Homo sapiens: one gene and its partners. The protein of the gene in region 6 purifies or fractionates together with the protein of the main gene of each other region. This does not show direct contact. Each region holds a gene or a part of one and is shown on either strand. Other genes may lie near its edges.

Evidence for each region.
Region 1: the proteins of CD200R1 (region 6) and UNC13D purify together in Homo sapiens (co-immunoprecipitation; one large-scale study listed by IntAct). This does not show direct contact.
Region 2: the proteins of CD200R1 (region 6) and POMT2 purify together in Homo sapiens (affinity purification with mass spectrometry, with the first as the bait; one large-scale study listed by BioGRID). This does not show direct contact.
Region 3: the proteins of CD200R1 (region 6) and PCDH1 purify together in Homo sapiens (affinity purification with mass spectrometry; one large-scale study listed by BioGRID and IntAct). This does not show direct contact.
Region 4: the proteins of CD200R1 (region 6) and SEZ6L2 purify together in Homo sapiens (affinity purification with mass spectrometry; one large-scale study listed by BioGRID and IntAct). This does not show direct contact.
Region 5: the proteins of CD200R1 (region 6) and PRMT9 purify together in Homo sapiens (co-immunoprecipitation; one large-scale study listed by IntAct). This does not show direct contact.
Region 7: the proteins of CD200R1 (region 6) and MORC2 purify together in Homo sapiens (co-immunoprecipitation; one large-scale study listed by IntAct). This does not show direct contact.

The regions. Positions count from the first base shown.
Region 1 is NC_000017.11:75,837,905-75,841,404, forward strand, and holds part of UNC13D (protein unc-13 homolog D), read right to left. Parts: intron 3,098-3,500; coding exon 3,053-3,097; intron 2,927-3,052; coding exon 2,858-2,926; intron 2,673-2,857; coding exon 2,603-2,672; intron 2,426-2,602; coding exon 2,321-2,425; intron 2,207-2,320; coding exon 2,114-2,206; intron 2,039-2,113; coding exon 1,935-2,038; intron 1-1,934. UniProt on the Homo sapiens protein: Plays a role in cytotoxic granule exocytosis in lymphocytes. Required for both granule maturation and granule docking and priming at the immunologic synapse.
Region 2 is NC_000014.9:77,279,384-77,282,883, forward strand, and holds part of POMT2 (protein O-mannosyl-transferase 2), read right to left. Parts: intron 1,081-3,500; coding exon 1,009-1,080; intron 698-1,008; coding exon 638-697; intron 546-637; coding exon 440-545; coding exon of another isoform or gene 301-439; intron 204-300; coding exon of another isoform or gene 154-203; intron 1-153. UniProt on the Homo sapiens protein: Transfers mannosyl residues to the hydroxyl group of serine or threonine residues. Coexpression of both POMT1 and POMT2 is necessary for enzyme activity, expression of either POMT1 or POMT2 alone is insufficient.
Region 3 is NC_000005.10:141,875,611-141,879,851, reverse strand, and holds the start of PCDH1 (protocadherin-1 isoform 2 precursor), read left to right. Parts: upstream 1-1,441; 5' UTR 1,442-1,589; coding exon 1,590-1,629; intron 1,630-4,241. UniProt on the Homo sapiens protein: May be involved in cell-cell interaction processes and in cell adhesion.
Region 4 is NC_000016.10:29,889,551-29,893,050, forward strand, and holds part of SEZ6L2 (seizure 6-like protein 2 isoform 5 precursor), read right to left. Parts: intron 1-3,500. UniProt on the Homo sapiens protein: May contribute to specialized endoplasmic reticulum functions in neurons.
Region 5 is NC_000004.12:147,677,664-147,681,163, reverse strand, and holds part of PRMT9 (protein arginine N-methyltransferase 9), read left to right. Parts: intron 1-692; coding exon 693-841; intron 842-3,408; exon of another isoform or gene 3,409-3,500. UniProt on the Homo sapiens protein: Arginine methyltransferase that can both catalyze the formation of omega-N monomethylarginine (MMA) and symmetrical dimethylarginine (sDMA). Specifically mediates the symmetrical dimethylation of SF3B2.
Region 6 is NC_000003.12:112,923,104-112,926,603, reverse strand, and holds part of CD200R1 (cell surface glycoprotein CD200 receptor 1 isoform a precursor), read left to right. Parts: intron 1-1,410; coding exon 1,411-1,519; intron 1,520-2,068; coding exon 2,069-2,114; intron 2,115-2,804; coding exon 2,805-2,927; 3' UTR 2,928-3,500. UniProt on the Homo sapiens protein: Inhibitory receptor for the CD200/OX2 cell surface glycoprotein. Limits inflammation by inhibiting the expression of pro-inflammatory molecules including TNF-alpha, interferons, and inducible nitric oxide synthase (iNOS) in response to selected stimuli.
Region 7 is NC_000022.11:30,934,275-30,937,774, reverse strand, and holds part of MORC2 (ATPase MORC2), read left to right. Parts: intron 1-63; coding exon 64-192; intron 193-737; coding exon 738-843; intron 844-1,131; coding exon 1,132-1,264; intron 1,265-2,452; coding exon 2,453-2,527; intron 2,528-2,613; coding exon 2,614-2,994; intron 2,995-3,500. UniProt on the Homo sapiens protein: Essential for epigenetic silencing by the HUSH (human silencing hub) complex. Recruited by HUSH to target site in heterochromatin, the ATPase activity and homodimerization are critical for HUSH-mediated silencing.

The DNA of each region.
Region 1 (3,500 bases), on a different chromosome or scaffold from region 6:
GGAGCAGCCTGGGGACAGGCCGAAGTCCCTATTGGACACTGCAGCCACCTGCATTACTGTGCTTGGGCCCTGCAGGCAAACCAGGTCCCTCCCCATCTGGTGCCTGCTCCAGTCTCCAGCCGCACCACCATTCCACCCTTGTCTCCGAATCACCCACCTGCCTGAGGTCCTAGCAGTACACAAGCTGACCCCAGCCCAGAAATGCACTCCCCTGGGCTCCCTCCGCCTCCCACTCAGACTCCAAGTCACAGCCCAGGCCTGAGTCGGCATCCTGCTCCTGTTCCTCCCCTGGCCAGCACTTGGCTGTGTCCCATCTCTTTTTTTTTTTTTTTGAGACAGAGCCTCGCTGTGTCGCCCAGGCTGGAGTGCAGTGGTGTGATCTCAGGTCACTGCAACCTCCACCTCCCGGGTTCAAGTGATTCTCGTGCCTCACCCTCCCGAGTAGCTGGGATTACAGACATGCGCCCCCACACCTGACTAATTTTTCTATATTTTGTAGAGACAGGATTTCACCATGTTGGCCAGGCTGGTCTCAAACTCCTGACTTCAAGTGATCTGCCTGTCTCGGCCTCCCAAAGTGCTGGGATTCCAGGCGCGAGCCACCGTGCCCGGCCGGCTATGTCCCATCTCTGCCCTACTCACATGCACTGGAATGGCTGTGACCCCCTGTGCCCTCCCCGGCATTCCTAGGACTTGACGTGAGTTGCCCTCAACATAGATTTGTCCTTATCAGCGCGTAGTTTTGCTGAGTTGAAGGCTATGGCATTGGGAAGCGGGGCTGGGGTTAGGGACCGGGTCCAAATTCAAATGCCCAGGACTCAGGAGACGAAAGCAACTGAAGTGGGCCCAATGGCAGCCATGATGGGCAGAGGCACACACATCGCTCCGCTCTGTCCACTCAAAAAAGCAGCAAAGGCTGGGCGCGGTGGCACGCGCCTATAATCCCAGCACTTTGGGAGGCCAAGGCGGGCGGATCATGAGGTCAGGAGATCGAGACCATCCTGGCTAACACGGTGAAACCCCATCTCTACTAAAAATACAAAAAATTAGCCGGGCGCGGTGGCTGGCGCCTGTAGTCCCAGCTACTCGGGAGGCTGAGGCAGGAGAATGGCGTGAACCCAGGAGGCGGAGCCTGCAGTGAGCCAAGATCGTGCCACTGCACTCCGGCCTGGGCGAAAGAGCAAGACTCTGTCTCAAAAAAAAAAAGCAGCAAAATGGCTCGGTGCAGTGGCTCATGCCTATAATCTCAGCACTTTGAGAGGCCAAGGCAGGCAGATCACCTGAGGTCGGGAGTTGGAGACCAGCTTGACCAACATGGAGAAACCCCGTCTCTACTAAAAATACAAAGTTAGCTGGGCGTGGTGGCGCATGCCTGTAATCCCAGCTACTCGGGAGGCTGAGGCAGGAGAATCACTTGAACCTGGAAGGCAGAGGTTGCATGCAGTGAGTCAAGATTGCACCATTCCACTCCAGCCTGGGCAACAAGGGTGAAACTCCGTTTCAAAAAAAAAAAAAAAAAGCAGCAAAATGATGACCCTGCAGTTCCAGCACTTGTGTTTCATGAGAAGCTGGAGATCTGGATGGTATGTCAAATCTCCAGATAGCTTTTTCTAATATTTTTTGGAAATGAGGTCTCACTCTGTGATCCGGGCAGGAGTGTTGGTGTGATCATAGCTCACTGCAGCCTTGAAATCCTGGGCTCAAGTGATCCTCCTGCCTCAGCCTCCCAAAGTCCTGGGATTACAGGAGTGAGCCACCGCATCAGCCGAATCTCTAGACTTTTTAAAATTGGCAACTGATTCAAAACTTAAAACACACATTTTGGGCCAAAGGGAACTCTGCTGAGAATTACACTTTGGGCTACCGGCTTGGAGGAGGGCAGGGGGCGTGGGGGGCTGGTGGCTCAGGGGTTCTGCCCAGGGCTGTGTACTCACGCCATGGACTGGTGGAAGTCGGATAGGTCCTTCTGTGTGGCGTGCAGAAAGAGGACGGTGGCAGCCTGGGGACTCAGCGACCCGTCCCAGGAGGTGCTTCCCGCCTGAGGGGAGCAGGTGGAGGAGTGTCAGGACCTGAAGGGCAGCCCCGGCTGCGCCCAGCCCCAGGAGGGCAATACCTCGTGCTGGGTGACCTCGTGGGACACAAGCTGCTGCAGGAGGTGGAGGTGCACGGTGTAGCTCGGCTGCGAGCGGCTGGCCGAAGTGGCTCTCTGCAATGAGGCCTCTGTGAGCAGACAGGGCCTCACACTGGGTGCAGCCAGCCCCGCAACCCAGCAGACCGCCGCAAGAGCTGGGCATGGCCACTGGCCCAGTACCCGACCTACCCGCTTATGGATGAGTTGGAACTGGAGGTGGCACTGGCCTCGGTCTGGGTAGGTCTCAGTGCGGGGTTCCAGGGGGTACCACTGGTCCTCTCGGCAGCGCAGGTCCTGACAGGCGGGGATGCCCAGCCCGTGAGCGTCAGAACCTCATAGAGTCGGGGCAGCGGAGGCGACAGGAGGTGGACCCCAGGCTCAGCTTTGTGAGGACACAGAGCCTCTCCCCAGAACCCCTCCCAACCCCCTCCCTCTGCCTCGCTCCTGGGCCCCTTTCCTCATCCTCCTCACCTGCAGCCTCAGAACCACGTTCCCCAGAAAGTCGTCCTGGCCTTTGTCCTTCCGGGCCTCTTTAAAGATCCTGCGTCAGGCAGGGTCCCATAAGGGGGACGCAGCAAGGGTCGGAAGGGATTAGGCTGGAATCCACCCCCGGCCGCAGCCACCTGGACCCCAAAGGAGCCTGCACCCCAGCATCCAGTGTGCATGTTGGGGGATGGAGGGCAAAAGGAGCCCCAACCCCTTCCCTGTGAGCCCTGCAACACGAACCTGCGAAGCCCATGCAGATCCGTGAGCTCCCCAAGCTTCTGTCGGACAGACTCCACAGTGTCCAGGTCCCTGGCAGGACAGAGGTTTGAGAAGGAAGCAGAGAGAGTGCCTACGACCTCTTCCAGGAGGAGGTTCCGCCTCTCTCACCCCAGATCCCTTCCCTTCCCATCCCTAGGGGCAGGCCAGGTCACTCACCACATGTCCAGATGAAAGCTCGCATTGGTGATGTCCTCAAACTCCCTGTATGGAGAAAAGGGCGTGGTTGAGGGCCCTGGAGGGTGGATGCCCCCAGACGAAGCAGTAAGTGACCACAGCCCAGAGCCATGGAGTTGTAGCCTATCCCTGCCAAACTTCCCTCCTCCCAGCCGCATCCCTTTTTTTTTTTTTTTTTTTTTTTTTGAGATGGAGTCTAGTTCTGTCCCCCAGGCTGGAGGAGTGCAGTGGCAGGATCTAACTCACTGCAACCTCTGCCTCCTGGGTTCAAGCAATTTTCCTGCCTCAGCCTTCCAAGTAGCTGGGATTACAGGTGCCCGCCACCACACCTGGCTAATTTTTGTATTTTTAGTAGAGACGGGGTTTCACTGTGTTGGCCACACTGGTCTTGAGCTTCTGACCTCGTGATCCGCCCGCCTAGGCCTCCCAA
Region 2 (3,500 bases), on a different chromosome or scaffold from region 6:
AACCCTGGAGGCTCCTCTCTAGCCCATGAGAGGACAGGGCCATGGAACAAGGAGGTGGCAGAAAAGATGGGCAGCTCTGTACACAGCATGGGGCTAAAAGTGAGGGCTGTGGAGTCAGATTGCACGGGTTTGAGCCTCAGCTCTATCACTTACTAGCTGTATGTCCTGGGGCAAGTTTCTTAATCTCATGGTTCCTTGGTTTCCTAATCCATAAAATGGGGGTCATAATAGCCAACGCTCTAGTGTTGTTGGGAGGAAGTAAAGTGTTTAACACAGCACTGGGTACTTGGGGGTTGTTACCTTTCAAAAGCAAAGGATAAGGGAAGGTGTGGGGTGGTAAACGCAAAGGATGGCCCATCAGCAGGCAGCCGGCCCTCCCCAGGGGTGCAGGTGCCCTGCTGCCGCCAGGTCAGGGGAGGGAGAGCCCAGAGGACCTGACCTGCAACCTCCGCTGGCAGCCGTGCCCCTCTCTGCATGGCTACAGCAATGATGCTCCCTGAGAGGAGGTAGAGGGCGATGCTCAACAGATTCAGCCACCAAACCACCTGTGCAGAAATGGGAATGGGCAGATGAGAACGCAGCCGCTCTCCACGGGCAAGTGCTCCAGGGCCTGAGCCGGGAATGTTTAGGCACTCACCGGGTTGCCAAGCAGATAGACTCGGAAATCTGTGTCATTGACCCCTGAGAAGCGTAGGCCCTGTGGAATAGAGACCACCCTGCTGACCCAGGCCCAGCCCATCCTCGGCCACACCCATTAGGGGGAGGAAGATGGTCACCTTCCACAGACAGGGAGCCTGGACACGAACCTCAGGCTGGCAAATTCTACACGAGCTCTCTGGGAAGCAGGGTCAGAATTAGGGCAGAAAACAGATACTCCCACCTCTGGCCAACCCATCCCAGGAGGCCCCTCGCCCTGCCGCCCTAGTACACCCACCCCCGCCTCCACCGGTCTCCCTGCTCTTGTTCTTGGCTCCATTTCCTGGGAGGAGCCCCAGCCTTGGATCCTACCTGATAGTTGATAGGCCAGTGCCAGGGTTTGGACGTGAACTCATTGTCCTTGGGTTTGAGGCCACTGTTCCCCTGCATGAAGGTAGCAAAGAAAGCTAGTCAAGACAGAGATCTAGAGGGCTGACAGAAATGTGGGGCCCAGGTTTTTCTGATATAGGGCCAAGCGCCGAGCAGAACCTTCTCTCCTTCCCTTCCCTTGCAGGGAAGAATCAGGCAGCTGCTGTCTGCCTACCTACGACACTTGCTTTACTTCTCCCAGACAAGCCTCCATCTCCCATAAGGGGTCCATTCCAACCTTCTAGGGAAAAAGAAGGGAAAGAGGAAATTGTTCCAATGGGCACAAAATATATACCCATCTGCCAAGCTAAGGACAAGGTGTGAAAATGGTGGGAGAGAGGGGATATAAAATGAGGCTTACAGCCGGGTGCAGTGGCTCATGCCTGTAACCCCAGCACTTTGGGAGGCCGAGGCGGGTGGATCACCTGAGGTCAGGAGTTCAAGACCAGCCTGGCCAACATGGTAAAACCCCGTCTTTACTAAAAAATACAAAAAATTAGCTGAGCGTAGCGGTGGGTGCCTGTAATCCCAGCCACTTGGGAGGCTGAGGCAGGAGAACCACTTGAACCCAAGAGGCGGAGGTTGCAGTGAGCTGAGATCATGCCATTGCACTCCAACCTAGGCAAAAAGACCAAGACTCAGTCTCAAAATAAATAAATAAATAAATAAATAAATAAATAAATAAATAAATAATAAGGCTTACTTATTTGTTCCCTTCAGGGGCCAATTTCAAACAGAAAAGCAGAAACTCTCATGCGTGCCTAGACTTGGAAGAGGTTGCTTTAGCTTAGTGCTTCTCCACCTTTTTTTTCCACTACTGCCCCTCTACCAGGAGCCTTTGTAGACAAGTTTCTCCCTAAACACACTCCATGACATTTTAATACTTTATACTGTACATCTTACTTGTGCTTTATACATAAAAAATTAGATATTTTGCCCTCCAAGAACACATTTCATCTATTGGGAGAGAAATCAACCCTAATGCATGCTTTGGTTTGAAGGACCCAGACTCAGCCTCCCTAATCCAGCAGCCAAGAACATCTGCTAACCTTTCTCTACAGGGCAAACCAGGTCTTTGCTAAAACAGGAAGGAGTAGGGTCAGGATCCAGGATATTAACCACTAGGACTGGGTTCTGCCTTATCACTGGGACAGACTGAAAAGGCATTTCCCCAGAAGGGGAGTCAGCTGCCATGACTTAGGCCGGAGCTTCTCCACCTCAGCACTCCCAACATTTCGGGCTGGATGAGTCTTTGCTGTGAGGACTGTCCCGTGCATTGCAGAGTGTTTAGCATTCCTGGCCTCCACTCACTGAATGCCCGTAGCACTCCTACCCTCAACCCCTCAGTTTCCCAGCCAAAAATTTCTCCACAGATGGCCAAAAGTCCCGAGAGGCAAAATCACCCTCAATTAAGAACCACTGGTATAGCCTAAGAAAGACCCAGAAAGTTCAGTGGACTGCCACCCAGTGCCTTATGAATCCAGTTCAGCAAGGGGCTGGGAATAGTTTACAGGCCTCTACATGGTGGAGAGGTTGTGCCTCCAAGGTCAAAAGTGCATCCAGGGCATCAGACACAAAGGGGACAGCTGCACGGCCCCAGCGTCACTGCGGCCCTTTGAAGGACCTGGGAATGAGGAATGAATCATTCTGGACCCCTGCGGCAGTTGCTGAGGGAAACCAATTCCTTCAAATTGTACAGTTTGGTCCCAAACCCAAGGACTCCAGCCAGAACTGTACCAAGCCAAGGGAATCTTATTCACTACATTAAACTCTGAGAAATCCTGCTCTGTTGCTAAACTAAAAGAGGAAAGAAAAATCTGCAACCATCACAGGCATATGTACTTGTAAGTTGTTCTCTATGGCTGAAATCTGGATGGGCTCATTCCTGTAACTGCACCAGGCAAGGCAGCCTTCTCCTCCAGGTCCCGGGCCACTACTCAGCCAGCGGAAGAGCCCTGCCCCTGCAGTTTCTATAGTCTGGACTCACTGTTTTCATCTCTCTCCCCTCCCTGACTCTTTGTTGGCTGAATAAGAAAGCTCTCATTACTTCCCTTTTCTTCTCTGACTCTACTTCTTAGATAATGAAAGACAAAATGAAACTCGTAGATTTAGTCTTAAAATTTGACCCAGGCCCAGAATGATATTCTGACTGACAGGCACATGTTCAAAAGAGCTATGTCATCAGGCCACAGTGACAGCTACAAGCAGAGAGTCAGAAAGGAAGTGACCCAGAGATGCTTAATGTCAACTTATCACCTCCCAATGCGCAAAAATGACAAAATTTGAATTTTTAAAATTTAATCTGGTGAAATAAGTCAACTATATGTACTGAGTACTGCTTACATAATCACTTCCAGGGAAGTCCACTTGACAATGGCTTACCAGGGGAAAAATAACAAGTGCTACACCTCCCTGCAATGCTGTGGGTAGAGTGA
Region 3 (4,241 bases), on a different chromosome or scaffold from region 6:
AGCCCTGCCCCTGGGCTCCTGGGGCTGAGGGATAGAGCAGAGCCCAGGTCAGAAAAGGAGTCCAGTTAAGCAGGGCTGCTCTGGGAGAGATCTTGGACAGACTTTGCTTGCCCTCTTAGCTAACCAGAGATTCCACTTTTACCCTGAAGAGCATCCCACCGAGAGAGGCCAGAGCTGAGAAGAGAAGGAAGTAGAAGAAAGAGGAAAGGCACAGAAGAGTGGTAGGAACAGGAAAATGGGGAAGGACAGAGATGGGGAGTCAGAGGCTATGGCAAAAAGAGGCCCAACAACTGGTCATCCCATAACAAGAGCCTTTCCTCACCCAGCACTAGGCCTGGCTAGGGATAACCTTCCTCATTCTTTTGACCTAGAACACTCTGCCTGGGCCTGCAGGCGAAGAAGGCAGGAGGTCCTGTTGAACTGGGACACTTGGTAGCCTGGGTTACCAAACCGCAAGCGCAGGAGAGGGAGTTCCCAAGCTACTCAGAGACCTCTAGATGGCGCCAGAGAGCCAGAGCTGAATGGGAGAAACCGAGTATTGGAGTGTGTGAGACACTGCGTGTGACACCGTGTGTGATTTGGTGTGAGTGTGATAGGGAGCGTGTGGCACTGCGAGGGCGTGTGACACAGGCCGTGACACTGCGCGGCCTCGCGGGGCAGGGACCCGGTGACTGTATAATGTAAGTCACTGGCAAATACGTGTGGCCGCAGCACTACGCCGTGCAGAGGGCAGGTGATCAGGGGACCCTCGAATAGCCTAAGCTCAGGAGCAGCACTTCGTCTTCACGCTTGTGTATCTTCCCCATCCTCACTCTAGAGCCCCCGGGTCCCATTAGCCTCCTCCTCCCACGGTCCCCTCCATAGCCCCACCCCCACGGCTTGCTGCGGCCACCGAGGCTGACCGCTCTGCGGCTTCGGCCGGAGGGGGAGGGGTGGACTTTCCCCGAGCGCAGCGGGAAGGGAGGGCCACACAGGGCGATCGGGGATCTGGGCGGGAAGAGGGTGGATATGGAGGAGCAGGTGCCCAGGGAAGAAGGCGCTGTGGGAGACACTTCCCTTGCCTCGACTTCCCAGGGGGCAGACAGAGCTGGGGACAGGTGTTTGAGTAGGGTAAGGAGGGGAATCCAGGAGCGGTCCTAGATGGAGGCTTGGGTGGGATAAGTGTAAGGTGAAGCTCAGAGGAGGGCACGGCCTGTGTACTGGGCCTCGGGCAGTGAAGAGATGGCAGAGGGAGGGGTCCAGGCTTTGGGGAGCGGTGCTCGGGGTCCCCTCCCAGCCGGACCGGAGCGGTCCCGAGCTCCACCTCCCGGCCGGAGGGGGGGCGGGGAGGCGGGCGGGCCGGGAGGGAGGGGGGAGGGAGGGGGCGGGCCGGGCTGTGCGCTCCGCTCTCTGCTGGCTCCGCCGCCGCCGCCGCCGCCGCCGCCGCCGCCGCCGCCGCCTCACACACTCGGGGAGCGGGAGCGCGGCGCGGACGCAAAGCCGCCGGGCTGCTGCGCCCAGAGCCAGCCGGAGCCGGAGCCGGAGCCCGAACTGCAGCTCCAGCCCCAGCCGTGCGGAGCCGCAGCCCAGGCCGGGGCCGGCGGCGGCTCATGGACAGCGGGGCGGGCGGCCGGCGCTGCCCGGAGGCGGGTAAGGATCCGGCGGCGGTGGAGGCAGCAGCGGCTTGGGGCCCGAAGCGGTCATGGCCGGCGGGAGCTGAGGGAGGGGCGCTCGGCGGAGCGAGGCCGCGGGGGCCCAACACGAGCTCGGCGCGAGGGGGCTGAGGTGGGGGCTGCTGGGAGCCCATAGCAGGGGATGCGGCTGAGGGATTCCGTCCTCCCAGGTCCGCGGCGAGAAGCCGAGGGAGGGGAGGGGGTGCTGAGCAGAACCCTAGTCCCCGCGTCCCAAACCTGGGCGCGCTCGGAGAGACGGGGATAAGGAGACTCCAGGAGCGCGCGGCGTGGAGGATGGGTTTGGGGAAGCGCGCGGCCCCCAGTTTGGTGGGGGTCTCCCGGAGGACGGAGCAAGCAAGGACCGTTGTCCACAACACATACATACACACTTGTTGGGCAACTACCTCGGCTCACTCAGCCGCTTCCAGCTTCTCGCGGGCACCCAGAGGGCCAGACCGTGGACATATATACACACATACATACATCCCTGCATATGTGCACACAGACATACCTCCCGCACACCAGCGCCCACTGGGGCACCGTCGCCAGCTCAGAATCCGCTTCAGTGTCTGCACGATCAGCAGCACCGACACACAACCCGTGGCTTTACAGAGCAATAACACAACCGGGTGTGACACCCCGCGACGTGGACACACAAACACAATCTCGTGCCCTCATGTACGAGTGTCACAGCCACAGTTCACTAGATGAACCCTCAAAACCTAGCCACCCCCCACATTCCTTTAAGGAACACACCCTAGCATATATCATCTTACCCACTTCTTGGCCAGAACATAGGTACACAGCACAGGTCTCCTTGCACCCCTCTACTGCACCCACACAAACACACAACCCAGTATCTCAGCACACGCTTGATGGCACACACTCTAACACAGGAATTGGCACCTACAGCAGCGCCTCACGGTCACAAACACAGAATCCACTGCTTCACCCATCTTAACACTGGGTGTCACACACACCTTAAACCAACAGTGTCACATTACATTACACCCTGCAGCGCATACACACAAACACACACACTCCGTTCCTCTCTCTCGGAGTCCAGATTCAGGCAGGAGAAGCCGCCGGGGTCGTTCGGCGAGCCCCAAGCGCCCCGCCACGTTAATCGCGACATTATTATTGTAAATATCGGCACAGCGGGAAGGCTGGGCCGGCCTGCCGGCTTCCCAGTCGGCGCCTCCCCAACCCCCACTCCCGGGCCGAACCGGCTGGTGTTCCGGGAACAAGCTGGACCTGGCTGGCCAAGCCATCCCGCCTCCCCGGAGCTCTGGGGCCCCAGGTTCCTTTGTAGAGGGTGCTAGCCTGGGACGGTGATTGCGACCCTCTTCCAGCCATTTAGCTGAGTTTTCTGAGCCACCTGGGTCTCCAGCACACCTGGGTCCCACACACCTTGGTGGGTCCCGCACACCTGGGTTCGTCTCACACCTGAGCGCCCCCTCCGCCTGGTCCCCGCTGTAGGCCAGTGTGTGCGCGGGCAGGCCCTGGAGCCAGAACGGAGATCGCGGCAGGCATAGGAGCAGAATTTGTAGGCGAGGTGGTCTCGCACCCCTTCCCCCCAGCTACCCTCTGTAAGTCAGAATTCTGGCCTCAGTTTCCCCAACAGTGGTCGGCTACTATTTCTTCTGCCAGGAAAGACTGGGGGCGGCACTGAGGCCTTGGAGGATTGAGCGTAGGGCAAAAAACCCCCTCTGCTCGCCACGAGAGGGTCGGTTTTATGAGAATGTCCCCGCCTAGCCGGGTTCGCGGCTTTGTGATTCCGGCGCCGGCTCCCTCCCCGCCCCCTCCTGGCGCCCGCTGCGCCGCTCGCGCCGGCTCCGGCTTGCGGGGGACCCTAGGCCGAGGCCGGAGATGCCGGGGAGGAGGGATTCCCCGCGGTGGCCTGGGTGCGGGGGGCGCAAGGGCTCCCCCCACTAGCCGAAGCGCGTTCTCACCACGCCGCGCCCTAGCCTTGCCTTGGGTTCCTGGAGGCTGGGCGCTGCCGGGGTGGGGGTGGGGCCGCCAGAGCCCAAGAAACTGCCGCCGTCCCCCCCGCCACCCCCTAATCTCCGCAACACACACACACACTCGGCGTCCTCTGGGAGGAGTCGCTCCGCGCGCTGGGTGTGTGCTGGGAGCGCCCGCTGACCAAGGCGGTGCGGACTGGGGCTGCTTGGGTCGCTTCGTGCAGGAAGACGCCGCGAGGCTTCTAGCACCTGCTCTGGGTCAACCCTCGGGAGCTGCCAGGGAAGGGGCCGCCCAGAAAGTTTTTATGACAAGCCGGAGGTCTAGCTGTGTTTGTAGGGGGTGGGGGGCGCGGGAGTAGGTGGGTGTTACTTTATTGACGTTAAGGTCTGGGGGAATTGGAACCTGTAATTACAACTAGACTAGGGCATGGGGTGGAATCGAGGGGAGAGGCAGACTGGCCCCCAGAGGTAGCCAGAGGCAGTGTGATAGGGAGGCAAGTCTGGATTCAGTTCTGGCCGCATTTAGTTTTTACCCCTTCTCCTACCCACCTCCAATTCCCAATTCCAAAAGGGACTTCAGCTGGAAGTGGGTGTCTTGCTGGTCTGCCATCTTCTTAGCAGAGGG
Region 4 (3,500 bases), on a different chromosome or scaffold from region 6:
CAAGGTGCCCTGTGGTATACCCTCAGCTCCTCAGCTTCCATCCAGAAGAACCACTTGAAACTTCTTTTTTTTTTTTTTTTTTTTTTTTTTTTTTTGAGATAGGGTCTCACTGTGTTGCCCAGGCTGGAGTGCAGTGGTGTGATCATAGCTCACTGGAACCTTGAACTCCTGGCCTCAAGCAATCCTCCTGACCCAGCCTCCCAAGTAGCTGGGACTACAGGTTTGTGCCACCATGCCCCGCTAATTTTTAAATTTTTTGTAGAGATGACATCTCAGTATGTTGCCCAGGCTGGTCTTGAACTCCTGGCCTCAAGCAAACATGAAACTTGTTGAGGAAATTTGACTATTTTGTCTTTTTGTTTTTGTTTTTGTTTTTGAGGAGAAGTCTCACTCTGTTGCCCAGGCTGGAGTGCATTGGCGCAATCTCGGCTCACTGCAACCTCCGTCTCCCGGGTTCAAGCGGTTCTCCTGCCTCAGCCTCCCAAGTAGCTGGGATTACAGGTGTGTGCGACCATGCCTAGCTAATTTTTGTATTTTTAGTAGAGATGGGATTTTACCATGTTGGCCAGGGTGGTCTCGAACTCCTGATCTCTTCAGACCTCCTGACTTCACTTTCACTGGGGGATTCATTTACAGGCCACTGAGTATTAAGATCTTTAAAGACAAAATAGTCTTTAAAGGCACAGTGGCTCACGCCTGTAATCCTGGCACTTTGGGAGGCTGAGGCGGGCGGATCACCTGAGGTCAGGAAAAAGACCCAGGCCTTGTCCTCAGGAGTCCATTGTCTACTGAGATGAACATAAGAACAACCTTCTAGAACAAAGTGGTTTCAATAAATGGTAGCTTTGGGAATGGCTGCCCATGCCCAACAGAATCAAGTCTGAATGCTTTAGTTTGACATTCAAGCCCCTTCCATAGTTAAATGCAGCCCAGCACATTCCAGGTTCAGGGTTGATCTCCCAAGACCGATATAGCCTACACAACACAGTTTTGTGACTCCTTAATTTTCCACCTCCATATTTTCGCTTGTGCTCTCCCCCTACTTTCTCATCTTTTAAGAGATCAGACTGGGGGGCTTATGTACCACCTCTTCCAGGAAGCCTTCCTGACTCTACATCTCTCCAACAGTTACTTGTTCTCTTACCTGTACACAGTCCTGCATGCATGATTTTGTCATCACATTAACCATTGTCTTTTTTTTTTTTTTTTTTTTTTTTTGAGAGGGTCTCACTCTGTCACCCAGTCTGGAGTGCAGTGGCTTGATCTCAGCTCATTGCAACTTTTACCTCCCGGGTTCAAGTAATTCTCCTCCCTCAGCCTCCCAAGTAGCTGGGATTATAGGCGTGTGCCACGACTCCTGGCTAATTTTGGTATTTTTATTATTATTTATTTTATTATTATTATTTTTTGAGACGGAGTATTGCTCTGTCACCCAGGCTGGAGTGCAGTGACACGATCTTGGCTCACTGCAACCTCCGTCTCCCAGGTTCAAGCAATTCTCCGGCCTCAGCCTCCTGAGTAGCTGGGATTACAGGCATGTGCCACCATGCCCAGCTAATTTCTGTATTTTTAGTAGAGACGGTGTTTCACCATGTTGGTCAGGCTGGTCTCGAACTCCTGACCTCGTGATCTGCCCGCCTCGGCCTCCCAAAGTGCTGTGATTACAGGCGTGAACCACTGTGCTGGTATTTTCAGTACAGACAGTGTTTCACTATGTTGGCCAGGCTGGTCTTGAACTCCTGACCTCAGGTGATCCACCTACCTTGGCCTCCCAAAGTGCTGGGATTACAGGCGTGAGCCACCATACCTGGCCTAACCACTGTCTACACTGGCCCAAGCCTTATTTATTTTGTGTCCTAAAAGGCTAGTCTATGAGGTCAGGAGTTCCAGACCAGCCTGGCCAATATGGTGAAACCCTGTCTCTAATAAAAATACAAAAAATTAGCTGGGCATGGTGGCACACGCCTATAATCCCAGCTACTCAGGAGGCTGAGACAGGAGAATCGCTTGAACCAAGGGGGCGGAGGTTGCAGGGAGCTGAGATTGTGCCATTGCACTCCAGCCTGGGCAGCAGAGTGAGACTCCGTCTCAAAAAAAAAAAAGGGCTAGCCTGGCTGATCAATGGGTGCAGCCAAGAGGCAGCATGGATCGGTGCAAAGACCACTGGATTTGTCATCAGGCAGACCTGAGTTCCAGTTCTAGCTCCAGAACTTACTAACTACATGCCTTTGAGCAGGTGACTTCATCTCTAGGGGCCTCTCACCTATTAACGGCAATAATAATTCCTATCAGGGAAGATTGGCCTGAAAATTAAATAAAAGAAACACGCAAAGCACCTGGCACATAGAAGCTGCTGAGAAAACGTTAATCACCCACCCCTCAGCCTCAATTAATGAATGACTGGGAGCCAGGGACTCGGGGATCTGTTGTCTGGCTGCAATAAACGTGCAGATGGTTGAGCAATCTACATAACCTTTGAGTCTTTTCCTTCCTTTGAGAGATAGAACTGACAATGGCCACTCTCAGGGTTTCTGTGAGAAGCAAATGAAACTAAGGTTGGTGAAAGGGCTTTGTAATGGGAAAGTTTGCTGAACTTGGGGTGAGGGGTGAAGGAGACTTTGGCTTTTCAGAGAAACTAATGAGGCCACTCTGGACCAGAGGCCCCAGCTAGTGCAGGTTGGGAAGGGCTGAAACAGGGCCTTGGTCCCAAAGGTACCCAGTGCAGCTGCGAAGCAGGGAAGACTGAGCAATGAAGGCCAATTTGTGCAATAGTCCTGCTTCCCCAAATGTTCCACTTAGCCTAAGGAGTCCTATTTTCAGTGCCCTGGGGAAGTGGCTGCTTAAAGGAGCCAGTGGGGAGCCATATCTTCAGATTTCACAATATCTGAAATCCAGCACTTGGCCCAGGCCCTCCAGGAATGCTCTTGCTCCCCAATAACCAGGTCCCTACTGCCAAATACACGTCCCCCAGCTTGCTGGCCCCCGATGAATAGGCACCTTTGCTATGCACACATGAGCCCCTAAGGCAGGTCCTGAGCAGAGGCCTCAAAAGAGGCTGGAGAGGACATGAGAATAGGATTCAGGGTGTACCCTGCATGAGGCACACAAGGCATCTGCGGTCAGCAGAGCTTTCAAGGAGGGCAGAGTGCGTGACACCAGCCAAGGCCATGCGGTGATGTGAAGGGGGCATTGGCCCGACACACAGTTCTCTCTGTCTCCATGAAGCATAGGAAGACAGTGGGGTCTGGAACAGGGCACTGGCTGGGCCCCTTTCCTCATGCACACATGTCTGCTAGAACACACCCTTGTACTGTGGGAAGGTTCCCGCACACACAGGTAAGCATGGATGTACACACATGTGCAGGTCATCTGTCATAGGTCCTAACAAATGCAGTCGTGCGTGAATACAGCCCCCCTTTCCTGCCCCCAGAAGTCAGAAGGATCTTTAAATTGCAAATCTGAGGCTTTCACTTTCCTGCTTAAAACATTTCAGGCCAGGC
Region 5 (3,500 bases), on a different chromosome or scaffold from region 6:
GTGACTTTGTGGTTTGAGGTTGAGTGGTGTCTTAATCTTATAGCCTGTGTCAGAGGAGTATGATGAGTTCAGTGTAGAACATTTTGAACTTTTCCAAAATTAAATTTCTCTCTATAGGGCCTCTGTGAGGATAAGAACAAGATTTATGTTGCTTCAGTTCTTTGCACAAGGATTGTTCAGGAAATATTTGAGTTGGACTACATTTGCAATGGCTGGAGATCCATTGCCGGGTTGAAATGACTAATAGGAAGCTGTATCTATGAGTCTGAGGTTCAGAAGAGAAGGTCTTGACTAGAGATGTAAATGTAGCATCCATTAACACATGGGTGATAATAAATGCGTTAGGGATGGATGAGTGAAAAAAGAAGAGGGCCAAGGACAAACTCCAAAAACACAGGAGCCGACAAAAGTGAGGCAGTTCTGGAGAATAAGGAGAATGTGATACAGCAGCTAAGAGTGGGGGGAGTTTAGAGAGTGGTCAGACTAATTCTGCTTATTATTGCCATGTAGGTGGTAAAATTCATTCATTTGTGCACTTGTTCAGAAAACAGTGCCTACTAAAGTTAAATGAAGTTTAAGGTGATTGTTCAATAGTGATTAAGTTCGATTGCTTGGAATCTTCAACTAATGATGTATATTCTTTCATCTTTTATGTTATTGACTAATTCATAATTTTTTTCTTATTTGTAAAGGAAACTTTTCAGTACACACTTTTCAGATGGGCTGAAGAGCTTGATGCTCTCAGTCGGATACAAGACTTACTTGGTTGCTATGAGCAGGCCTTGGAACTGTTTCCTGATGATGAAGTGATTTGCAATAGTATGGGGGAGCATCTCTTCAGGTTTGTAGTGATTTTAGTATTACTTGTTAAGAATTATTCTGTATTAGTCTGGATAGGGATAAATCATACTGTAATTTTAACAGGGAAAGTTTAATATGGAGAATTATTAAGGAGAATTGAAAAGAATAGCAGATATATAATAATCATAGCAGTTTTAATATTTTGTAATATACGGCATAATAGCCACTGCCCTTAGGAGTAAGACAGAATATCCAAGGAAGAGTTCCCCTCACTGGGCTGAGTGCCACCCCTTATTGGAGAGGGCACAGCTGTGATTCTTAGGATGGCAGAAAAGTCACTGTAGTGCCTTGCCAGGGAACTTCTTGTAAATTTGTTTTCTGGACCTGGGTATAGTTTTGCCTCTTGGGATGCCAGAGAAAGCCTCATGGGGAAGTATCTTATCAGAGGTACTCCATTACAAAACCATGTAGTAGGGTAAGAAGCCTTGGGGAAGCTGCTGACCCTTGGATGCTGCTAGCTGCCATGCATTTCAGGAGCTTGGTGCTAGACAAGCCCTGTGCAGGAAGCAAAACTCTTTCTTGCTACAGTGTCTCTCCAGCACTGTTTTTTTTGGGGGCAGAGTCTCACTTTGTAGCCCAGGCTGGAGTGAAGTGGCGTGATCTCAGCTCACTGCAACCTCTCCACCTTCTGGGTTCAAGTGATTCTCGTTCCTCAGCCTCCTGAGAAGCTGGCATTACAGGCGCCTGCCACCCCACCCAGGTAATTTTTGTATTTTTAGTAGAGACAGGGTTTCACCATGTTGGCCAGGCTGGTCTCGAACTCCTGACCTCAAGCGATCCACCCGCCTCAGCCTCCCAAACTGCTGGGATTACAGGTGTGAGCCACTGCGCCTGGCCTCCAGCACTTTTTTTTTTTTGAGACAGTGTGTCACTGTGTCGCTCAGGTTGGAGTGCAGTAGCACCATCATGGCTCATGGCAACCTTGACCTCCCAGGCTCTGGTGATCTCACCTCAGCAGCGCCCCCACCTGCACTCCAGTAGCTGGAATTGCAGTACATGCCACCACACCTGGCTAATTTTTTGTCTTGTTTGTAGAGACAGGATTTTGCCATGTTGTTGCCCAAGCTGGTCTGGAACTCCTGGGCTCAAGCGATCCTCTGGCCTTGGCCTCCCAAAGCACTGGGATTACAGACTTGAGCCACTGCACGCGGCCTCTCCGCACTTTTTACCAACAAAGCTTACCCTTGTGCCAACTGGTGGGAGAATATTAAAGGGCCAGATACAGTTTTCACAGAGCAGGCAAAAAAGGGTGAATTTGGCAATAAGTTGATAACTTACATGTTGGGAGTCTTGGAACCACTCCCAGATTTGCTGATTTGCTGGAAGGGCTCACAGGCCTCACCATGTAGTCCTAGTCATGGCTCTTGTGTATTACTGTGAATGGATACAAAGCAAAATTTGCAAAGGGTAAATGTGTATGGGGCAAAGTGTAAAGGAAAACCAGGTGCAAGCCTCCAAAGTTCCTTTTTCAGTGAAGTCACGCAGGATGCACTTCATTCCCACGGTGAGTTATGACAGTACACGTGAAATGTTGCCAACCAGGGAAACTCATTAGAGGCTCAGTGCCCAGGGTTTCTACTGGGAGCTGGACACTTGGGTACCCTCTGCCTGGCATATACTAAAATCCTAGATTCCCAGAAGAAAAGCAGGTCAGCTGTTGAGCATAAACCACATTGTTTGTATAATCAGTTTAGGAATACTATCAGTTAGGATAGTGAGAACCCTCCCCAAATCCAAATTCCCAGATGCCAGCCAAGGGACAGTTTTGTAATCAGGCCTTTCAAAGGATGGCAGTCAGGCCTGCTATGTTAACTCTGCATACTAGTACATGTGCGTGAAGAATTCTGTGAAAGTACAGGAAATAAAATGAATGGTTAACATTGCTTCTGAGTTTGAACGTTTCAGAGTGATGGGGACTCAGCATGGTTCTGCCAAGTTTGAAAGTGACAATTGCTCACATTCGTAGGAATTTAGTTAATCTCATTTTAAATGTTCCTTTTAGGTATTTTCATGCATTTCCTCACTAATTGCTTTCTCTTTCCCTCAAATCACATCCAGCTAAAAAAAACCTTAATGTTATGAATAATGAACTACAAAATTCCTAAGTGACCACAGAATTTCTCTTATTAAACGTATCTCGAGTTCATTAGTTCTTAACAATCAATCTGCTACCTTTGTCTCTGGTGCCCATGGGGCCCTTGCGTGGCTCACTAGACTGTGCAGGGCTAGGGCTCTGGGAATGCAGTGTATGTACTCTGTACAGTTTTAAGACATTAAATTAATAGAGCAATCAACTCAGTATTATGCTTTTTTTTTTCAGTGTGGAGAAATAATGTTTTATAAATAACTTTTAAGAAGAACATGGATCATTAACCTGACAAATGTACTCCCCTGTGATAATTAATGTAAACTCTTTATATGGTCATTCACAATAAGTTGTATGAATATTTATTACAATTTTGGATCGTATGTCTCTCCTCAGAAAAAATTTTGAGATTTGATGTGTAGAATTTTTTGTTAACAGTTGCTTATTTGAAAAAATTCTAGGTCGGGCATGGTGGCTCATGCCTATATTCCCAGCACTTTGGGAGGCCGAAGCAGGCAGATCAGTTGAGGTCAGGAGTTCGAGACCAGCCTGG
Region 6 (3,500 bases):
CCTTTCATATTACTATATGATGTCAGATTTATAGTGTCTCAGAATTGAAGGGAAATTCTCATTCAAATTCCTATGTACAGCAGGGATCTCCTTGATGTCTTCCTTGCACGGTGGATCTTCAGCTTCTGCTAGTACAAATTTAATGAGAGAGAGCTTAGTAGTTTGAAAGCAAGGGTTTTAAAAAATGTTGTTTTAAACAATGTAACCAAACATTTAATTTTCATATAACATATGGAGAAATTCAGTATTTAAAAACATCAACTGTGGAAGAAAGGTGGAAGGACCAGAGGCCAGCCTGCTCAGTCTCCACTTCATCTCCTCTGCTGCCCCTGAGCTATATTCATGCAACACCAGGAGCATAGTTTGCAAATCGTTGCCTCTCAGGCTGGCAATTCCTTGGTTGATTTGCACGCTTGTCAGATAGAGTTTTGTATTGCTGCCAGCAGCTAATAAATAAAGTTCCTGCTGTGTATTCATTTCAGTTTCAATGCCCTGGGAGAAAGATGACTTCAGAATTAGGGTTACTTTTCCAAGTATCTTCCTTACAATTGCCCATTTAGTTGGAGGGGAGAAACACTCTGCTATAACAGAGTGGTAGGAATTCACCACCAATGAATCTTTAAAGCAACAAAACCCTGATATAAGGTGATGTCTTGCTGAAAACTCTGGAGTCTGTATTGAAAAAGCAGTTTTATTTTAATAATTCTCAAACTATTAATGGGGCAGAAGTGTTGAAAATGAAACTACAGATATGAATTTCATGTATTGTGAGACATTATTGAATGATCTATATAGATAGATATGGATATAAATATAGATAACTTTATTTTTAGTAGACATTAATTTTTAGAGCAGTTTTAGGTTCACCGCAAAATTGAGTGGAAAGTACAGAAATTTCCCATATAAGCCCTGCCTTCGCCCATGTCCAACCTCTCCCACCTACACCTGCACCAGAGTGTTACATTTATTAGAACTGTTGAACCTCCATTGATACAACATTACCACCCAAAGTCCATACTTTACATTAGAGTTCATTCTTGGTGTTGTACATTCCATGGGTTTGGACAAATGTGTAATGACATGTATCCACCAGTACAGTATTATATGGAACAGTTTTATTGTCCTACACAATCCTCCTTGCTCTTTCTATTCCTCCCTCCTTCCTCACCACCAGATAATCAATAATTTATTGACTATTCCCCTAGTTTTATCTTTTCCGTAATGTCTTACAATTGGAATCATACAATATGTAACATTTCCAGATTGGCATGTTTCACTTAGTAACATACATTTGAAATTCCTCTATGTCTTTTTATGGTTTGATAGCTCATTTCTTTTTAACATTGAATAATAAGATAGTACATTATTTGGATTGTACCACATTTGAACCATATATTTTTGTGTCTATAGTTCCAGGTGCCAAAAAATCAGCAAAATTATATATTCCATATATCATCCTTACTATTATTATTTTGACCATCGTGGGATTCATTTGGTTGTTGAAAGTCAATGGCTGCAGGTATTGACTAATGAATGTTTTTTTCTTCTTCAGCTTTATTAGGCTAGAAAAGAGTCAGAAATATGGAACTGACCGTATTGGGTATATTAGGATGTTAACATCAAATCTCCCATAATCAAATCTTGAAGGTGTTAGATAGACTTGGACTACTTTGAATGATGAGAGAGACTTTGCTAGGTTGCTTTGGCATAGAAGCATGGAAAATTAGGCCATTTAGGGTAGGATCTTGGGAGAGAAAGTGCATGTTAATTTTCACATTTGGGTAAATAATTACAATTCCTTCATGCACCAAAGAGGAGATGTTACATGCATTCAATTGCATCAAGCTTCTATTGCATAATTTCACTTTTTCAAAATCCGGAATATTCTTAGTTGGGGATATTAACCACGAGCAGTATTCTTCACTTATTTCTAGTAGTTTCTTTCTGATTTATTATGGCTTCTATCAAAATTAAACACAATTGTCAATAGTATACTGTCTTATTTTCCCATTTTCGATCTAAACAATGATGTTTCCTCCATTCACTTCAATTTATTTTATTTTTATAGAAAATATAAATTGAATAAAACAGAATCTACTCCAGTTGTTGAGGAGGTAAGATAAGATAAAAAAGACTAATTGCAAACTTAAGCCAATAGTCTGAAAATCTAGCAACATAATTTGTAGTTTGTATCAATATTAGTGTTTCAGTTGAAAAACTAAAACAGTTCTGACTTGCAGTGCTTATATGTGTGATTACTTTGTTAATTATCTATCAAATACTATTTATACATCATCACTCTGAACCACATTTTCACTTCATGAACTATATCCTAACACATATGATGTTTGGCTCCTTTAGACTGTAATCTTTTGAGGAAATGAATTGGTGTTTCTTGTCACCAATTTGAAAGCATCTCTAATTCCTGACTTTTCCTTTTCAATACTATCATTATTTTTCTCTTACACAAACTTAAAACATATCCTGCTCCTTCATCTCTTATTATAAGTAGCTTACTAAGTCTCCAAAGCTCTCCTTTGGAGTACTCATATCACTTCATTCATCTCCATTCCTACTTGCACAGAGCCATTATCTCCACACAGAGACTTATGTAGTTAACAAATACTTTTTGATAAAATGTTAGAACAAATCCTGCTCTTATGTTTATATAGGCCCAGAAACACAATTATAAGCACTCTTGAGCACCTGTTAGAAATACTAAAGCTATGGGCAACTGTTACAAAAATACAGATAGTCTCTATGATGATTTTTTGAATTGATTTTAACTTTGAGTTCTTTCTTAGGATGAAATGCAGCCCTATGCCAGCTACACAGAGAAGAACAATCCTCTCTATGATACTACAAACAAGGTGAAGGCATCTGAGGCATTACAAAGTGAAGTTGACACAGACCTCCATACTTTATAAGTTGTTGGACTCTAGTACCAAGAAACAACAACAAACGAGATACATTATAATTACTGTCTGATTTTCTTACAGTTCTAGAATGAAGACTTATATTGAAATTAGGTTTTCCAAGGTTCTTAGAAGACATTTTAATGGATTCTCATTCATACCCTTGTATAATTGGAATTTTTGATTCTTAGCTGCTACCAGCTAGTTCTCTGAAGAACTGATGTTATTACAAAGAAAATACATGCCCATGACCAAATATTCAAATTGTGCAGGACAGTAAATAATGAAAACCAAATTTCCTCAAGAAATAACTGAAGAAGGAGCAAGTGTGAACAGTTTCTTGTGTATCCTTTCAGAATATTTTAATGTACATATGACATGTGTATATGCCTATGGTATATGTGTCAATTTATGTGTCCCCTTACATATACATGCACATATCTTTGTCAAGGCACCAGTGGGAACAATACACTGCATTACTGTTCTATACATATGAAAACCTAATAATATAAGTCTTAGAGATCATTTTATATCATGACAAGTAGAGCTACCTCATTCTTTTTAATGGTTATATAAAATTCCATT
Region 7 (3,500 bases), on a different chromosome or scaffold from region 6:
ACCTGAATGTAGGGAGAGAGAGAGGCTGGCTCCTAACATGATGTATCGGTGTTTGCTTTCCAGCCCAGAGGGGAATCATCAAGTTCTGGGATGAGTTTGGCTACCTCTCTGCCAACTGGAACCAGCCCCCATCCAGTGAGCTGCGTTACAAACGCCGGAGAGCTATGGAAATCCCCACCACCATCCAGTGCGGTGAGTTGGGTGGTTGGACCCCCCCGACTCATTTCCATCAGCCCACAAGCCTCTTTTCTCTATCTTCCTGCCAGCCTCCTAACTTGACTGACATTCATGGACTTACAGTCCCCTAGGGATCCAAGTCTGTTTGACGATGGCCCTGTGAGCTCAGTCTTGAGGCTTTGCTGAGTTTCACCTGTCCCTCTTGAGTGAGAAAGAAGGTCATCTGTCCTCCCAGGCCTCTCCAGCTGCAGCCAGGCCAGGCTCACTTGGTTTGGTACCACATGGTTTCTGGTGTGCGTGGATGACTGAGCCAGGATCTTGATAAAAAAGGGAGAGGGGCTGGGGGTGTTAAGAGTCCAGCATATTAAGTTTCCATCCTTCCTGGAATCAGTGTCCCTGAGAAGAATTAGTATTCTCTAAGGATAGGCAGAGTTGGAGCCCGAGTGAAGATCTTTGCCTACAAAGTCTGGGGCATCATTGTGGTGGGCCTGTGAGGAACCCGGATTACAGATAGAGTTGGTGGGCGTGGCTGATATGTGGGGTTTTTTTGCTCTCTGCAGATTTGTGTCTGAAATGGAGAACCCTCCCCTTCCAGCTGAGTTCTGTGGAAAAAGATTACCCTGACACCTGGGTTTGCTCCATGAACCCTGATCCTGAACAGGACCGGTGAGCACATTGTCTAACAAGGGGATTGTGGGTACTTTTCTCCCCTGCCCCTCACTGTGTTTCTTGAGGTCAGTGCACATACCTTACATCTCTGTCTTGCCACACCTAATAACTGCCCAAGAAATAAAAATAGATGTATGTCCTGCAGTGTATAAGATTAATTCTGTGCATTGGGAACTCTGAGGTGGTTGCTCTTGTGACAGACAGTGTAGACTGGCTGAAGAGAAAGGTCCTTGCCGAGCTTGGCGCTCTGTTTGCCACGACCTCTGTAGTACCTTGTCTCTACAGGTGTGAGGCTTCTGAACAAAAGCAGAAGGTTCCCCTGGGAACATTCAGAAAGGACATGAAGACGCAGGAAGAGAAGCAGAAACAACTGACAGAGAAAATTCGCCAGCAGCAGGAGAAGCTGGAGGCCCTTCAGGTACGTGGGTCATGGTCAGTGGGCAAAGCCAGCCTGTGTCAGGGCTCTGCCTGTGACAGGAACCTTCAGTAGCTTTCCTGTTCCCTCAGGCTCAGTTTTACCCTCCACTCACCCGCGTTGTTTGCCAAAGCTTTCCAACCCCAACCTCCAGGTCCACGTGTACTATTTGCCAACAGTGTTATTTTAAGAATAACACCTTGCTTATTCTTAAGAAAAAATGCTTATATACTTCAAAGTGGTCCAATTCATTTAGAATGTATAAAACTCTAGAAAATAAAAATTCTGCCTTAGAGGTAACCATCATTAACCATACATCCTTCCAACTTGTCATGAACTCATGAATACCTACACATAACACACATATATTTTTTAATAGAAATAGGGAGATAATGCCATGTATATGTTTTATATTAATACATACACATACACATAATTGTTTTGATGACTTTCTAGAAGTGAAATTAAAGGACTTAAAAGGTCCATTGTAAAATTCTATGGCTTTTTGCAACTATTTCTAAAGTACCCTCCAGAGATGTGTTAATTTCTATTATTTACCAGCAGTATATGAGAGCATTATTTTTAAATGTTGTTGCAAATTTCATAGGCAAAGATGCATGTTTTATAATTTAATTTCCTTAATATTTCTAAGATTGCATAATTTTTCATGTGTCCACTTTTATTCCTTTTAAACTGCTTATTCACTTACATTTTTATTTTTTCTATGTTTTTTTCTAGATATGTCTGTGATATCATCTGTTTATCATATTTAGTACACAACCATTTCCCTTTTTGGCTTCTGTGTCTGTGCAGATGTGCTCTCACTAACCCATGATGTTTTATATGCCTCCCTAGCTGCTAAATCCCACCTTTCCTTTCTGGCTTCATCCAGGTTTTCCCTATCCTTCGGGCCCTTTCTACCTTTTTGGGTTCCTTTTATAGGAATTTAGTCTATTGACACTTTTTGCCAGTCTCTCAGTTGCTGGATTAATCACACAGTTTCCTGTAATTTGCTGATAGTTGAGTATTTATGTATTTTGTGTCTCCCCAATGAGAACAGGAGGTTTGTAAGAGTAGGACTATGGCTCAGGTTTTCTATTTTTTTTGTCCCTGGTTCCAGACACTATCCAAAAAGTTTGCTCAAGTATACTAAAATATGCAAACAACTTCATCATGATGTTTGCCTTGCAGAAAACCACACCCATCCGCTCCCAAGCAGACCTGAAGAAATTGCCCTTGGAAGTGACCACCAGACCTTCCACTGAGGTGAAGTCCAGGGGCCTGGGAAGGGCTTTTCCTCAGGTGTCTCATGCTAGGATCAGTGTTCTCACTCTCTGTGGGCCTTTTTTTAGGAACCTGTGCGTAGACCTCAGCGTCCTCGGTCGCCCCCTTTACCTGCTGTGATCAGGAACGCCCCCAGCAGACCCCCTTCTTTGCCAACTCCTAGACCAGCCAGCCAGCCCCGAAAGGCTCCTGTCATCAGCAGTACCCCAAAGCTCCCTGCTTTGGCAGCCCGGGAGGAGGCCAGCACATCTAGGCTGCTCCAGCCACCTGAGGCACCCCGAAAGCCTGCCAACACTCTCGTCAAGACTGCATCCCGACCTGCCCCTCTGGTGCAGCAACTGTCACCATCTTTACTGCCCAACTCCAAGAGCCCTCGGGAGGTTCCTTCTCCCAAAGTCATCAAGACTCCAGTGGTGAAGAAGACAGAGTCACCCATCAAACTCTCCCCGGTGAGACGCTTGTCCTCTTTAATACCCCAGCCCAGTGTCAGTAGTGTAGGAATGGAATTGTGCAGTGTCACAGCTGTACTGGGGGAGCCTTCGGAAGATACTGAATCTAAAGCTTTGCTGCTGCCCCTGAGGACGGGAAGCCTTGATAGCTGAACGGACTTGTTGGGGCCAGACAGCACATCGGTTGCCTGTACAGCGAGCTCTTCACTGTTGCCTCCGAGTTTTGGTCTGCCACAAACTTGAGTCACCTCCACTGGCTCTCGAAGTGTGGGCTTAGGTCAGTCATCTGGTGACAGATAGCCTGAGTGGGCTGCGGCAGTGGTCGGTGGTTCTTGGGGAGGTGACAGCTAGTTGGCCAGGTAGACTAAGGTGGGAAGGGAATTGAGAAGCTTCTCCTATGATAGCTTTGAGCAAAAATCCTTATGGCGCAGGGGCCAGTGGGTTGCCTGTGTACATTCCAAGTAATGTCAGGCAGGGATTGCAGGGAGTACAGCTCCTCTTGGAAC